Linked DNA regions of Homo sapiens: region 2 is linked to region 1. A link means that fine-mapping ties the variant in region 1 to the expression of a gene that starts in the linked region. Tissue or cell type: whole blood. Region 1 holds a variant in brackets; the other region holds the start of a gene. All regions are shown on one strand. Distances are between the middles of the regions.

What was found. PIP is the estimated chance that this variant, and not a neighbour inherited with it, causes the effect.
Region 2: it holds the start of AREL1, and the variant in region 1 is fine-mapped to the expression of AREL1 in whole blood (TOPMed, PIP above 0.99).

What each region holds. Positions count from the first base shown.
Region 1 is chr14:74,671,336-74,679,520 of GRCh38, forward strand. AREL1 (apoptosis resistant E3 ubiquitin protein ligase 1) reads right to left here. Exons shown (of 20, transcript NM_001039479.2): 6 at 5,248-5,417; 7 at 4,806-4,986; 8 at 4,364-4,611; 9 at 2,699-2,776; 10 at 1,742-1,883; 11 at 1,496-1,617; 12 at 73-148. Among named protein-coding and RNA genes, the nearest start is that of AREL1, 38 kb to the right of the region's middle. The variant G/A (reference allele first, on the strand shown) is at 4,568.
Region 2 is chr14:74,709,381-74,717,565 of GRCh38, forward strand. AREL1 (apoptosis resistant E3 ubiquitin protein ligase 1) reads right to left here and starts at 3,700. Exons shown (of 20, transcript NM_001039479.2): 1 at 3,553-3,700. FCF1 (FCF1 rRNA-processing protein) reads left to right here and starts at 3,764. Exons shown (of 8, transcript NM_015962.5): 1 at 3,764-3,820; 2 at 4,105-4,172; 3 at 5,492-5,563; 4 at 6,571-6,719. The coding sequence starts at 3,818. RefSeq lists an enhancer at 3,598-3,877.

The DNA of each region.
Region 1 (8,185 bases):
TTTTTTTTTTGTGGAGAAGGTGCGAGTGGGGAGGAGAGTTCAAAAAGATGAATATAAAATTTCAAAACTGACCTTCTTCATCCTGGAAAACAACCTCAAAGTTCTTGCTCCAATCTGAGATGGAGAAATTCCGAGTGGCTTTCAGAGACTGAAAAGAAGTGAAAGGAAGGGAATTGTCAGAACACTGGCTGGTGTCCTCTGGATGTTAAAGACAACACAAGAGCACTGCCATTGTCTGCTGGACTAACTACGACTGCCTGAAGGAGATATGTTACTCATAAACAAGCTTTAATGATACCACCTGACATTTAAAATGCACATAACTTCAAATTTAAAGTTTTAAAAAATAATCTGATTTGCCTTTACATCATCACTTTGTTGGAAAGCTGAAGTTGTTTTTTTCTTTTCCTTTTGTTTTAAACAATCCTTGTTTTAGCAATGAAAACATTCTTGCATAAAGAAGTAAAAAATGACTCAAGTCAGTAAGCTGTAGGCAAAAGAACCAAGGAATCCTGGTTTTCAGCAAAGTATGATCTATCCACTAGACATATTTATCCACAAGGCTAGGTTCAGACAGCGAGCCATGCCACACGGAGAATATGGCTGAGAAAACGGGTTTCCAGTCACACCTACCAGAGCCAAACATCACAAACACTTTCTGGACAGGAACCAAGCCTTCTCATTCCTGGGGAATGTAAGAACTATGCCAGTGTCTGTGCAGTGGAGACAGACACACATCAGGTGTTCCTTTTCCATCAGACCAAAGTGACAACAAAAATCATTTCCTTTTAATTCAACAAGCGCTCTATTCCAGGGATTCAATAACAAGAAGTTTCTTCTGTAATCACTATTTACACCTGCCCTACATGGGAGTTCCAAGGGACCCATTCAGTAGATTTGAAGGCCAGTAAGTAAACTGCTCTTCCCTCGATAACATACCTCCAACAAAACTGCCCCAAATTTAGTAGAATCAAATAGAAGAACAGACATATGTAAAGAGAGAAATTTAGGTTTCAGAAATTTAGTATATCTGTCTTTTATAAGTATATCTGTCTTTTATAAGTATATCTATATCTTTACTTAAACAGAGAAATTTAAGTTTCATGAAAAAGATAACCAGATCAGGCATGGTAGCTCATGCCTGTAATCCCAACACTTTGGGAGGCTGAGGCGGGTGTATCACTTGAGTCCAGGAGTTCGAGACCAGCCGGAGCAATATGGCAAAATCCCATCTTTACAAAAAATACAAAAATTAGCCAGGCATGGTGACACATACCTATAGTCCCAGCTATTTGGGAGGCTGAGTTGGGAGGATCACAGCCCGGGAAGATCGAGGCTGCAGTGAGCCATGATCGCACCTCTGCACCCCAGCCTGGGCAATAGAGTGAGACCCTATCTCCCAAACAAAAACAAAAACAAAAACAGTAACCTGCAGAATATAGACATTCAATTGGAAAACTTTGGTATCTGCTGACAGAGATGAAATTTTACCTACCGATTCCAACAAGGCATGTCTGCTGACCTTCAGGGTGACTTTGGAATGTGGTCTTTTCATATGTACCTGCCGAAGCTCTCGCTGGAAAAAGTTCACCTTGTCCTGAAAGGTCTCAGAGCCTCCTGGGGAACAGCAAGATCCATCATTACAGCCTCATTACAAGCCATCTGTGTAGTCCTGCCTCTCCACCCTCATGGATGTGGCTGGGCTCACTACCTTCCCTATAGAATCCCTGTGTAACCTCACCTATGTTCTTATGCAGGGAGCGGATAAAAGTGGCTGCTAGAATGTTCCTCTCCTTACAGCTGAGCTCCACAGGAGGTTGAATGCCATCATCCACCACCAGTGTGAGCAGCTTATGGACAGGGTCAGGACCAAGGTATGAAAACTGGTAAAGAAAAACAAAGAAATTAATCTATAAAACCCTCAAGGCCAGTAAAAGTCCTCCACAGCTCTATCCTGTGTACCAACCAACAACAATAAGTTAGGCTTGTTTTCTCCAAATGAGGACCTACCAGAAATACATTTCATTATTTTTCCCTTCAGTGATTTACATTTCAACATTTAAAATTATTTTAGTCACAGAGACTGCCTTTAGTTAGGACCACCAGCAAAACTACAGACCTTCTAACATAAAATATAAGAAGGGTGATATGTTAAATAGCAATAAATGGCAATACGGTGATATATTAAATAGCAATAGTAAGGATATATTAAACAGCAATAAATGACTACTCCAAACTGATCAGAAGAAAACTATTTTTATAAAATGGCACATTCTAGCCTTTGGGCAAAAGTTTAGATTCCAGAAGCCCAGAAAAGTTAACAACAAACAAACAATGTATTTTAATATATGAGAGTGGTGCTTCTAAAAGGAGTTAGCTTCAGCACACTGGGAGACCAAGCTTGGGCCAGAGTTACAAACATCTTCTCTATTAACTTAGTCTTGAAGGCAAAGGATCACTGTTGAAGTATTCTGAGTTGCTGCTAATTCCTGTTTCTGTAGGCATGCGTCCTTCCAGAATTTATATATTCTTCATGCCATTTAGTGAGGAGATAATGATGCTTTATTTGGCAACGAATCCTGTGTACACTGTGAGATCTTGCAGAAACACTAAAAGTGCTTCTGAGAAAAAATAAAAGGCTGAGATAGTCCAGAGATGAAGCATGCTTGATGTGAACCAGATGTAAGGTTCAGCTTACTTTTGTTCCTGGACACACTCGGAAGGTGTAAAGGCGCCAGGGGATGATCTTCAGGTAGAACTCCTTCACTGAGAATTGCTGGAGGACCAACAGACAGGAAATGAAGTGAATGATAAATAAAAAGGCTCTATTTGGGTATTCTAATTCAAATATCATAGTCCCTATTTACATTTCTCATAACCTTTCCTCTCCATGGACAAAAGTAATAATTTAGTGAGTACTAAAGTCAAATAAATACATTAACTCTCTATTTAAAAAGGCAAATTAAAAATATTACCCTGATGGCCAAGTGTGGATGGCTCACATCTATAATCTCAGCACTTTGGGAGGCCGAGGCAGGCAGATCACTTGAGGCCAGGAGTTCAAGACCAGCCTGGCCAACATGGCAAAACTCAGTCTCTACTAAAAATACAAAAAAATTAGCTGGGTGCGGTAGCTCATGCCTGTAATCCCAAGTACTCGGGAGGCTGAGGCACAAGAATCGCTTGAACCCGGGAGGCAGAGGGTGCAGTGAGCTGAGATTGGACCATGGCACTCCAGCATGGGTGACAAAGTGAGACCCTGTCTCAAAAAATAAAATAAATAAAAAAAATATGACTGACAATGCAGTTTCACACAGAGATATTTCATAATTGTAATACTCAAGTCTTTCTAAATATCTGGGATCAGGTTTTCACTTTATGAGAACAGAATATTTCACCTAGAAACAATCAAAATCTCCTTCTGCTCAGCCCCATGATGCTCAGAATGACTTCCTCCAAGTTACTGGATAGCAAACACCAGCAACCCATACACACTGCTTTATACCTATTTGAATGGTGCCAAGGATCTGCCAGGGAAGGGAGGCAAGATGGGGTGAGCTGGAGTGGAATATGTTGGTGGTATAGGGGAAGGTCCTCACACAAAAAAGTTCATACAAAAGAGGAAAAGACAATGCAAAAATTTTTTAATCTTAAAAAATCCCTTTTATCTGAATGTGCAGGTCAGTTGTTTTCTTGATAAAAAAAAGTTTAAAGAAAATTTCAAACACATACTAAAGAAGACAAAGAAGTATAATGAAACTATCAGCTGCTTCAACAATTATCAATTCATAGCCAATCTTGTTTCATTTATTCACTTACCCATTTCCCTCATTACCATCACCCCTAGTCCAAATTAAGGCTAGATTTTTAAATGAAGAATGGTACACAGCAAAGTGTTCTGAAGTAGAACAGAATTAGAACTCAGTTTTGGTTATGAGATTAAAGAGATGCAATGGGATGTTTCACAGAGTCTCATTTTTATGAGGACTGAATGAATAAGGAAAAACAAATATTAAAAAGAAACTAACACAAAGTGCTTCTTAGCTCAGGGGCTTGGGAAATTCACCTTCTTTCCTCTGCCAAAATTTCTTTACTCCAATCCTGTAGCCTAATAGTGACATCCATTTACTGTGGTTTCATGAATCACAGAACAAAAGATCAAATTGTTTTGACACAGCACAAGAAGCCAACAGTAATTTTTATGCTAGCAAGAAATTTTTAACAGTTGAAAGTGGCTTTCTATACAACTAGTTAACAATCTTGCCCTGATTCTCAGACTGTTACTTTGTGGTTTCTGCTACCAAATACCAATTACACACAGGTTCAAGCAGGGGGATTTTATGTCGAGAATGGAAGGTCCAACCTTTGGTGACACATAGCAGTACACCTTCTTCGGTTTCTTCACCTTCTCAGGGGTGTGGCACTCAGAGGGCGAGTCTTCATCTTCCTCGTCAACAGCAGTGGATGGCCGGCGCTGGGAAGAGGTCATGTGCATGGGTGGCAGGTGCCATGGAGTGCTGCTACAGTTGGTAGCATTATAAAGATAAGCCTCAAAGTAAATGCTCAC[G/A]CCTGAAGTGGACACATTGCGTTCGACGATATTCTTCTCATCCTCTGAAGTATAATAAGGAATAAGGTTTAAAGTAGAAGTCAGAGAAGAAAAAAATTACCTATCACAGGCTTTTAGTCCACAGGACAAGCCAAATGTGGCCCAAATATCAAATGTTTGTGAGGTCAGACAAAAGAGTGCAAACAGGCAAAGAAACGGCTGAAGAACAGCACTAAATCATACTTTTCTTTTAACTTACCACTTAGGACAATAATGTCAAATTCACCATTATTGATTGGCTGATTTTGGTATGAAATGCAAGCATGGAAGCAGCCTCGAGAATGCAGGGTGAGTCGCAAGAACACCTGGAAAGTCTGCCTGTTGGATGTTACTGATTTCTCAAATGAGACACCAGTACTCTCTTCTTCTTGAGGGCCGAGCTATAGGAAGGCAACAGAGCATCACTTAACATATAGTATTTTCCCATTTACAAGCCACTTTACTCCTTACAAAGAGCTTTCCTATCTATGATCTAATCTAAATCACAAAATTACTAATGAGACAGGTATTGTCAGATGAAGATACAGACAGCACAGAAGTCAAGGAGAAGGAAAGAGAGATCGAAGTGAATTAGGTGTGAGAATAACAGAGAAAGGAGCCAGCTCTCTCTAGCACACAGATAAAGAAGGGAGACTGCTTACCTCATGAATGGACAAGGTGTAATTGTGCTCATCTCTCAAGGACATGGAATTGTTGGTGGGATTATCATACTCATCTCGGGGTACTATTTGAAGGGTGTGCGGCTGCCCACAGGTCAATACAAGAGTAGAAAAGTGGCACACAATTTTGGTCTTAGAAGGAACCACCATTCCTGGAACAAAGACAATGGAATCTAACATTTATTTATTTTATTTTTTTATTTTTATTTTTTTTGAGATGGAGTCTCGCTCTTTCGCCCAGGCTGGAGTGCAGTGGCGCAATCTCGGCTCACTGCAAGCTCTGCCTTCCGGGCTCATGCCATTCTCCTGCCTCAGCCTCCCGAGTAGCTGGGACTATAGGTGCCCGCCACCATGCCCAGAGAATTTTTTTTTGTATTTTTAGTGGAGACGGGGTTTCACTGTGTTAGCCAGGATAGTCTCGATCTCCTGACCTCCTGATCCGCCCGCCTTGGCCTCCCAAAGTGCTGGGATTACAGGCGTGAGCCACCACGCCCGGCTGGAATCTAACATTTAAAGGTGCTCTTCAGGGCACAAAGATCTGCTCAGTGGGTCCTAGAAAGCTAGGTTTCCTCCCAATTCCTAGGGATAAATAACACTATCAAGAGGAAGAGAGGCCAGGTGCGGTGGCTCACACGTGTAATCCCAGCACTTTGGGAGGCCAAGGCCAGAGAATCCCTTAAGGATCCCTTAAGAAGTTCAAGACCAGCTTGAGCAACATAGCAAGACCATCTCTACAAAAAATAAAAATTAGCCAGGCATGGTGGTTCATGCCTGTGTCCCAGCTACTCAGGAAGCTAAGGCAAGAGGATCACTTTTGCCCAGGAGGTAAAGGCTACAGTGAGCTATGACCACACCATTGCATTCTAGCCTGTGTGACAAAGGGAGACCCTGTCTCTCTCCTTTTTTTTTTTTTTTTTTTTTTTTGAGACAGAGTCACGCTCTGTCACCCAAGCTGGAATGCAGTGGCACGATCTCGGCTCACTGCAACCTCTGCCTGTCGGGTTCAAGCGATTCTCCTGCCTCAGCTGAGTAGCTGGGACTACAGGCACCCGCCACTACACCCAGCTAATTTTTGTATTTTTAGTAGAGACAGCGTTTCACCATATTGGCCAGGCTGGTCTCAAACTCCCCACCTTGTAATTTGCCCGCCTCGGCCTCCCAAAGTGCTGGAATTACAGGCGTAAGCCACGGTGCCCAGCTAACCCTGTCTCTTTATTAAAAAAAAAAAAAAGAGGAAAAAACAGAAATAGAGAAATTTAAATGAATTTGGGGAATTATTTTTGTTACAAATTCTTAACCACTGCAAACCCTAAGTAAAATGAAAAAAACTTGGAAGAAATAAAACAAAAAAACCAACAAACAACTAAACAAATGGAGACATGTTTATGGAAGATCCAACATAGTACAGATGTCAATTTTCCCCAAATTGATATATAGGTTTAACACAATTCTTATCAAAGTTCCAGCAAGATTATTTATAGATTTAGTTAAGATTATTCTAAAATTTAAATGGAAAGGCAAAGGAACTAGAATACTAAAACAATTTTGAAAAAGAAGAATAAAGTGGAGTCAGCTTACCAATTTCAAGACTTATTATAAGAGCTACAGTAATCAGGCTGTGTGACTTGGCTCACGCCTGTAATCCCAACACTTTGGAAGGCCAAAGCAGGAAGATTACTTGAGTCCAGGAGTTCGAGACCACCCTGGGCAACATAGTGAGACCCTATTCCTACAAAAAAGATAAAAAATTAGCTAAGCACGGTGGTGCACGCCTGTAGTCCCAGCTACTCGGGAGGTTGAGGCAGGAGGATCACTTGAACCCAGGAGGCCAAGGCTGCAGTGAATCATGATCGCACCACTGCACTCAGCCTGGGTGACAGAGTGAGACCCTGCCTCAAAAAAAAAAAAGAAAAGAAGAGGGAGCTACAGAAATCAAGATTCTGTGGTACTGGAGGAGGGATAGGTACACAGATTAATGAAATAAGCCCCCACAAATATGTCCAACTGCTTTTTGATAAAGGTACAAAAGCAATGTAATAGAAAATGAAAGATCACCTTTCCAACAAATGATGCTGGAGTAAAGACATGTATAAGCAAAAAAAAAAAAAAAAAAAAGAGGACCTTGACCCAAATCTATTAAAATTAACTAAAAATGGATCATGACCCTAAATACACATTTTCAAACTGTAAAAACTTTTGGGAAAAAAAGAGAACATCTTCAGGATCTGAGACCAAAGATTTCTTAGACACCAACAGTTTGACCATAAAAGAAAAAAATGGATGCACTGGATTTCTTTCTTTCTTTTTTGAGACAGGGTCTCACTTTGTCACCCAGGCTGGAGTGTAGTGGCAAGATCACAGCTCACTGCAGCCTCAACCTCCTGGGCTTGTTATCCTACCACCTCACTTCTCCACCCTACTCCCCAGTAGCTGGGACTAAAGGTGCACGCCACCACACCCAGCTAATTTATAAATTTTTTGTAGAGATGAGGTCTCACTATGTTGCCCAGGCCGGTCTTGAACTCCTGGGCTCAAGTGATTCTCCCACCTCAGAAAGTGGATTTCATCAAAATTGAAAACATGTGCTCTGTGAATAACTCTGTTAAGGGAATAAGAAGAAAAGCTCAGCCTGAGCAACATGGCAAAGCCCCATCTCTACAAAAAATATAAAAATTAGCCAGGTGTGGTGGCACATGCCACAGTCCCAGCAACTTGGGAGGCTGAGATGGGAGATCACCTAAGCCGGGAGAGGTCAAGGCTGCAGTGAGCCATGACTATGCTACTGCACGCCATCATGGGTGACAGAGTGATACCCTGTCTCCAAAAAGAAATAAAGAAAAGCTACAGATGGGGAGAAAATATTTGCAGACCATATGTTTAACAAAGGACTAGCATATAGAATATATACAGAACTCTCAAA
Region 2 (8,185 bases), 38 kb after region 1:
CTCTGACCTGGACCACTTACAGAAAGATGAACAAGAAGAGTAATTCCTCTAAAATATTTCAACTCCCACATCTCTATTCAGCCACCAACCATACTTTACCTATTTACAAGTCTTTCTGTAATACAGGACTGTGGTGAGATTGCCCAGGACAGAATGGGCCCTCAATAAATGCTTTCTGAATGAATGACCAAGCGGCAGTAATCTATCTCTGAGGTATTCTTACAAACCAATTCAATATCAAGACCTCAGAAGCAGAACATGCTGTATGCCATGCTACCACATTTAGGGGCAGGCAAGTTAATTGAAAAATAATTAACAGCGACTAATGTTTGTTGGGAGAAAAAAAGTCCTATCATGTAAGTCAGAAAAATAAATGTAAAAACTATAACTTGAAAATGGACAAAAAAGTGAATCTACTTATAACTTTCTAACATTGAAATACAAGATGTTCTTTAAGGAGTCTTTCATTATCCAGAATAATTTTACAAAGAAATTTGATACCAACTTAAATTAGTAAGTTAGACCAATTAGTGAATGGAATGAAGTCCAAGCCCAATTATGTGTTCAAACTGTGTGTCCAATGCCTTGGGTGATTTTTTCTCTTCAAGACTGCAGAAAAATGCAAAACAACCCTCTTGACTGCTGAGAAGGACTAAAATCATTTCTTTTCCTCACAAGTATGTGCCCAAAAGCAATTACTTTCTGCTCCCATCCATCACAAATCAACACTACCTCCCAGCTTCGCATCCCCCACTTTCCATCCCCATCAAAGAATGCTGTAGAGTATCTGACCACTTTCATTTCACGCTATAAGAACCTCAGATTGCAATAAAATTACAATGCAACAAAAACAAATTTTTCTAAGTATGTTCTTATCCCCCATGGTGTTCCTACACTAATTTAGCTCCCTATTAGGTATTAACAATCAAGGAAATCAGAACACTCTCAATAGAGGTTACAATAGAAATTACAAATGGCCTTTTTTTAAGTTGTTGTTGTTCATGGATTCCAAAATTCAAAGTACACATTACCAGAAGAGCGTTTTTCTGTCAGTGCCTAAATTTAAATGCAAATTACTATTTAATGATATGCAATTTTCCCTCTGAACCTATATATAATACTAATGAGTCAAATGTTTAAGAAGAATAACTGACCATGTTATTTTAGCTTTTAGACAATAAAAAGCTTATTGTCTAATCACCAAGAGATACATCAAAAAACTGGTTGCTATTAGCTCTACACATGAATGGCAGCTTGACAGAGACAAGCTGCTCCAGAAAGATTAGGAACTTCTAGTGACCACAAATGGGGTAAAGCAGAAGGCACATACAGTATCTGTAGCTACCATTTCTACATCAAAAATTCAGTGCCCACAGATATGTAAACTATTAAGCCATCTAAATGAATGTGTGCCTGAAAGAGAAAGGAGAAGCAGAAAAAGTTTACACCCAAATCAACAGAAGAAATCACCCTGCGATTGAGCATCCCAGGACCTGAAAACTTAATGTTTTGAGGTTTATGAACACGTTCAAGTTCCAGTGCAACTATGTTAAAATAAAATTGGGCTGGTGCCAGGCACGGTGGCTCACGCCTGTAATCCCAGCACTTTGGGAGGCCAAGGTGGGCGGATCACCTGAGGTCGGGAGTTCAAGACCAGTCTGACCAACATGGAGAAACCCCGTCTCTACTAAAAATATAAAATCAGCCAGGCGTGTTGGCGCACGCCTGTAATCCCAGCTACTCAGGAGGCTGAGGCAGGAGAATCGCTTAAACCTGGGAGGTGGAGGTTGCAGTGAGCCGAGATTGCGCCATTGCACTCCAGCCTGGGTAACAAGAGCGAAACTAACTCCGTCTCAAAAAAAAAAAAAAAAAATTGGGGCTTGGCACAGTGGCTCACGTCTGTAATCCCAGAACTTTGGGAGGCCGAGGTGGGCAGATCACCTGAGGTCAGGAGTTTGAGACCAGCCTTGCCAACATGGTGAAACCCATCTCTATTAAAAATACAAAAATTAGCAAGGTATGGTGGCACACACATGCCTGCAGTCCCAGCTACTCGGGAGGCTGAGGCAGGAGAATTGCTTGAACCTGGGAGGGGGAGGTTGCTGTGAGCCGAGATTGCGCCACTGCACTCCAACCTGGGCAGCAGAGGGAGGCTCTGTCTCAAAAATAAAATAAAATAAAATAAAATAAAATTGGCATAAAATTCCAACCCTGCCACACATCCTCAAGTTGGAAGACACACAATGGTAACAACAGAAAACACTCTGAGTAGTCTGGTTTACACTCTTCTAGGGACCTCGCATGTTAACTATGAATAAACATAAGTCCTGATAACATCCCAATAAAAGAGTGCTACTATGATTATCTCCATTTTACAGATAAAGAAACTGAGATGCAGATAGATTAACTCACCCAATGTCATGGCGAGTTATAAGGCAGAGCAAGGATTTTAACCCCATCAGTCAGACTCCAAAGTTCGTGTTAAACAATAAACGTGTTTTCATCATAAGGGTTATACAATGGTCACCTTCTTTTTTAAACCTGATAACATATTTTACTTCCAACTCTAGGATAGCATCATGCAATAAGAAAAGTATGACAGAGGTACCCATTCCGTTCCCAGCTTGATCAGTAGCTGGAGAATGGAAGACAAAGTGCAAAAAAAAAAAAAAAAAAAAAAAAAAAAAGAAAAAAAAAGAAAGAAAGAAAGAAAGAAAAAGAAAAAAAGAAATACAAGTACAGACTTTGGAATCACGAGACTCAAACAGACCCCTGAACAAAGTCTGGGGCTCAATTTCCCCATATGTAAAATAAAAGAATTTATGTTATTGAGAAGGTCAAAGAAGGTAATATGAATAAAGTGACAAGTACAGTATACAGGATGGGGGTTTTCATTTAAAGTTTACAGACACCCAGAGGGTCCACGGATGGGCTTCAGAGTCCACCAATCTCATTAAGTGTATTACAAACTGTATGTGTGCCCATTTTTTAAAGAATTGTTCCTGGCTTTCCACAAACTTTCAAGAAATAAGTTATCTCCAAAAAGTTAAGAACCACTGGAATACATAGCAGGTACTCAAAGAAAAAAGCTACCTTTCGCTCCTTGTTCTCACAAATTCTCCCTTTTTACTTAAAGATGACACACCAAGGCTTCACAATAAATGTGCATTGTATCTCACCATTTTCTTGGCTTGGGTAAGTAGTAACATATGCAAGCTTATGCCCCAATTCTCTAGCGATAGTCTAGGCCCTCAAACACTGCTTCATTTCTCTCTTCACCGAGAGGAGTACACGGTATATACTCGAGAACAATCATCCACCTAGCTGCACAAAGCACCATATCGGCTAGGAAAACCAAATAGGAACCACAGCCTCAGGGCTGGACCATAGACACCGGATACCCCAACGCTACAGGGTGAGGAGAATGTGTTCCCCCAAACTACTGGGCAAACCAGGAGTCTGAACCCCCCTACCCTTTTCCTCCCTCTCTCTCTGGAACTCTGGTAAAGGCAGGTCTTCTGGGCTCTGCCTAAGGCTGGAGAGAAACGTTACCCGAGCCGGGGGTTGCAGCGCGACGAAGTTCCACCTCCGCTGTCCTGGGAAGGGGCGGCAGCACTCAGCAGAAGACGGGCTCCCCACTCTCCCACCAACAGACCCCAGAGTTGGTCTCCACCCGGCCTGGGAACCGGCTCGGGGGATTGCCCTTTCCCCAAGGAGTTTCCGCTTCCGGGCTATCCTTTGCCGGAAGCAGTATGTGAATGACGTAGAAGTATTGCGCCGTTGGTGATTACGGAAGAACCAGGAGTTTGGCGTGACCATGGTGAGAGAAGACGGTCCAAGAAGGGACGTTATCAGGCCACTTTTTGGGTGGAGAAGGAGGTAGTCAGACCGTGGCCAAATTTCCTTCACATTATCCTAGCATATTTTCATTCTGGTCTTAGCTCTTAAACTTCTCCAAGCGGTGACTGTTATGCTTTACAGAGTGGGGAAGAGGGTCTGGGTTATTTGAGGCAAGAAGGGAAGGCAATAGACAAGAGAAAAGAAGAGACTTTAAAAGATGCCGTGTGTTTCCAACTTTTTTAATTCTAAAATTTCTGTTTCAAGGGGAAGCAAAAGAAAACAAGGAAGTATGCGACCATGAAGCGAATGCTTAGTCTCAGAGATCAGAGGCTGTGAGTGTCTGGAATCAACTGCCCAGGGATATTCTAATAAGAGTCTAGAGAGGATAAGTAGTAAAAATGTTTGTTGTTATTATTTTGTTTTTTGCTTATTATCGTGTCTTAGATTTATATAGCATGAGATAGCCAGTGTTTAACAGTAATTTAGCTGCTGAGCGATCACACTGGGAAAGGCGATGGGAATTAAACATTTCTTAAGTGTTCACTTTTTCTACCGTTATATGCTTTGTCTGCCATATCGCATTTAAACCTCATGTCAGTTCGGTGAAGTCCGTATAGTTCTCTTTATGTTTTTACCATTACACTACTACATTCCCCTGGGGTGGGGCGAGGGGAGTGTTTCTTGTTGAAAGATGGCAAGGTTAGAGACCTTGTTTGTCTGGCGTTTCCAGTGCCTGGTACTCAAATATTTTTGTCAGAGAAAATGGGAAAACTCCAAGATATCTCCATTTTATAAGTCTTACTAATATAAGAATCCAAATCACTGTGGAAGAAGAAAGTGAAGTGAAATTCCCTAGTATGAAGAGGATCAAAGCGGTGTCCCTGCTTAAGTGTAGAATAAGCATAGCTATTAAATAAAGACTGATCTTCACTGAGTTTAAGAGTCTCAGAAAGCCGGGCGCAGTGGCTCACGCCTGTAATCCCAGCACTTTGGGAGGCTGAGGCGGGTGGATCACCTGAGGTGAGGAGTTCAAAACCAGCCTGGCCAACACGGTGAAACCCTGTCTCCACTAAAAATACAAAAAAGAGTCTCAGAATAAGAGAATAGTCGTTAAAACCTTCAGAATTATTATTCTCAGCCTTTAGTGTGGATGTATTGTGTAATTTTTAGGAATGACACTCCATTAATAATAATTTCTTTCTAGTTAAGGGTTAAGTTCTGTATATGCGTTTTTACATTTTAGCCCTTTATAAGAAGCATATGGGGTAATACTTTTCCCCCAAAAGTTAAAGCATCTGAATCTTCAGAAGATAACTGTCACCCTTTTACCCATTGCTTGGAAGTGGATTGTGATCCTTGATGTGAGAGATTCTGACTAAAAAATAAATATAGTATAATCAGCTTTTATTTACTCATTAACAATTCTTATGCATTATTGGCATTACTGGTTAATTCTGATACTTCCAGGTACTGTGCTTTGCACTAGAGTTATTTGCTCAGAAAGAGTATGCTGATATTAACATGAGGATATCACAAAGTAGGATTTCTTCAGTAGACCAAAAAAAAAAAAAAATGGAACTTTAGATTTTTGAGATTTTAATTGCTGTGGTTTTTCTTCTCCCTTGGATTTAATTTACCTTTTTCTTCCTAGTAAAGAAAAGGATAGATTAAAACCTAAAAAGAAAGAAAAGAAGGATCCCAGCGCATTAAAGGAAAGAGAAGTGTGAGTAATCAAACGTTTGAAGTTTTCCTTTAAAACCATAGACCTCTTAGAAATCCAGGCTTTCCCTGAGCTGGTTTGCTAACTTATTTGTTAGTAAGTCTAGCACAACTATGTAGATGAAAGTCATATCGATGAGCATATATCAATTCTAGTGGTTTGAAGGTTTTGGGATTTTATGGAGCAGTAAAATTTCCCCTAAAATCCTGGAGATATTATCTAGGATTATTAACTTTTTCTTTGCCAGGGATCTTTTAAGAGACATAAGTGCCATTGTTTAACACACCAGCAGTTCATAAAAGAGAGACTGTATCACCAAAAAATATTTAAAATATATTTTCAGAATAAAGATATTTATATAAAGATATGACCTTTATATAAAGATATAAAGGTATTTCATTCCTTTTAAGTAAGTACATTTAACTTTATGAAAACTTTACCACATTTTCCTTATTTTTCTAATTTTTCCCTGGATTGGTAATGGACATATTATCACAGGTAGATACTGATCCATGGCCTAGCATTTGGAATCACTGTCATATTCAACCCAGACAACTTGGGCTAGATGTGATACAGGTCCTGCTGTAGTATATAATCCTAACACTAGACAAACTGTTCTCTATCACATTCCATAACAGCAGTTTTAGAATCCTTTAAGAATGACAAACGTGTTGTTGTATCATTCTAATCACGATAACTGTATTCTACCTCCCTGTGCCCATGGTGATTCTACTTTTGCTAGAGGAAGAGCTAGATTGGATAATTGCTTTTTTTGTTTGTTTGTTTTTGATAATTGCTTTTTTAAAGTTGGTGACAAAGGTTGCCAGGGGAGCTGAGATTAAGATAATGATATTACTTTCTTCCTTGCCTTCCTTTTTAGGATTTATTTCCAATGAACATGGACAAAAGAGTTTACAGCAAACAGTCCCAAGCAGACTTCTTTTTTGTTTTTGTTAATACTAGGGTATCAATGTAAATTTTTCTTTGTTCTTGTTTTCTTTTTCCTTCAGTCCCCAACACCCTTCCTGCTTATTTTTCCAATATAATACACAGCTGGGCCCACCTTACCACATCCTCGTTGATACCAACTTTATCAACTTTTCCATAAAAGCCAAACTGGACTTAGTGCAGTCAATGATGGACTGTCTGTATGCCAAGTGTGAGTATCATACTTTTATGTTTCCGTGACATTTGTTCAGAATAATTATATTTATACAAATACATGAAAGGAGGGAGATGGGGTTCTTGTTAACTGAATTGCTGGCCATTTAATTTACAGTGGTCACCATAGCAGTGACCATGTTTAATGAATTGAAGTATAATGCAAACTTGACTGGAAAAAATTAAACTTTCACAATTCAGAAAACACTTAGAATGCTTCGAGTATCATTATGGACATCAATTTTGAACATAGGGGAATTTTCTGTTTTAGAATTCTAGATTTTAAAATTCTAGATAAATGAAAAATCTATTTTTCAGTATCTATATTCTTTTATGTTAACAAGGATATGTTCTCCCTTTTGCCCCAGTGTTGAAACACTAAATAAGACATTCTGCCATTTATGATCACAGCCCTAGAAGTTAGATAGATGATGGTCAATTCCTAAGTTTATTCAGTTTGGTATTTATTCGTAGTACAGAGGATCTGAGGTAGTTTATTTACACCTAGGTATGCAATTTACCATTAATAGATTTCCCTTGTGTATTTGTATATCCCCTCCTTTAAATGATCTTCCTTCACTACCATGAACAGGAAAAAGAAAAGTAAGGCCATCTATGAAGCCTATCATAGTAAGATCTGTCCCATTTGTAGCGGGTTTATATTTATATATTTTTCAGTCACCCGGTTAGAGGTACGAATGAAAATTAGACTTAAACTTTGCCATAGAGGATAAATTACTGGAATCAAAGGGAAAAATTTGTACCTCCCTTTTTAAGTTTTAAAGGCTACTATATAATGAACAACAGTTGCAGAGTGATAGAAATGGTAAATGTTGTTTACTGATTTATTAAAATGAGCAAGATGAGAAGATGGGGTTAAGGAATGTGTGAAGGGGTAAGAAAGCAGATTCTTTAGATGCCCAAAAATTAATTAAGAATGGCTGCAGCCGGGCGCAGTGGCTCATACCTGTAATCCCAGCACTCGCGGTGGCTCACGCCTGTAATGCCAGCACTTTGGGAGGCCAAAGCAGGCGGATCATGAGGTCGAGATCGAGACCATTCTGGCCAACAAGGTGAAACCCCATATCTACTAAAAATACAAAAATTAGCTGGGCGTGGTGGCACGTGACTGTAGTCCCAGCTACTTGGGAGGCTGAGGCAGGAGAATCGCTGGAACCTGGGAGGTGGAGCTTGCAGTGAGCCGAGATTGTGCCACTGCACTCCAGCCTGGCAAGAGAAACTCCATCTAAAAAAAAAAAAGAATGGCTGCATACATTTATTAGCTGCATACGTTTATTAAGATGTGAAGGTAGCCATCAGATGAGAAAAAAATGGAGCTAATGGAATAAAATAGTCTTCTCTACAGATCAGAATTGATTGGGTGGCAATGGTCAGGGGACCATTGTTTTTTCATATAGGCCTTTCTGTATTACTTTTTAAAGCTATATACATAAACTTTTGAAA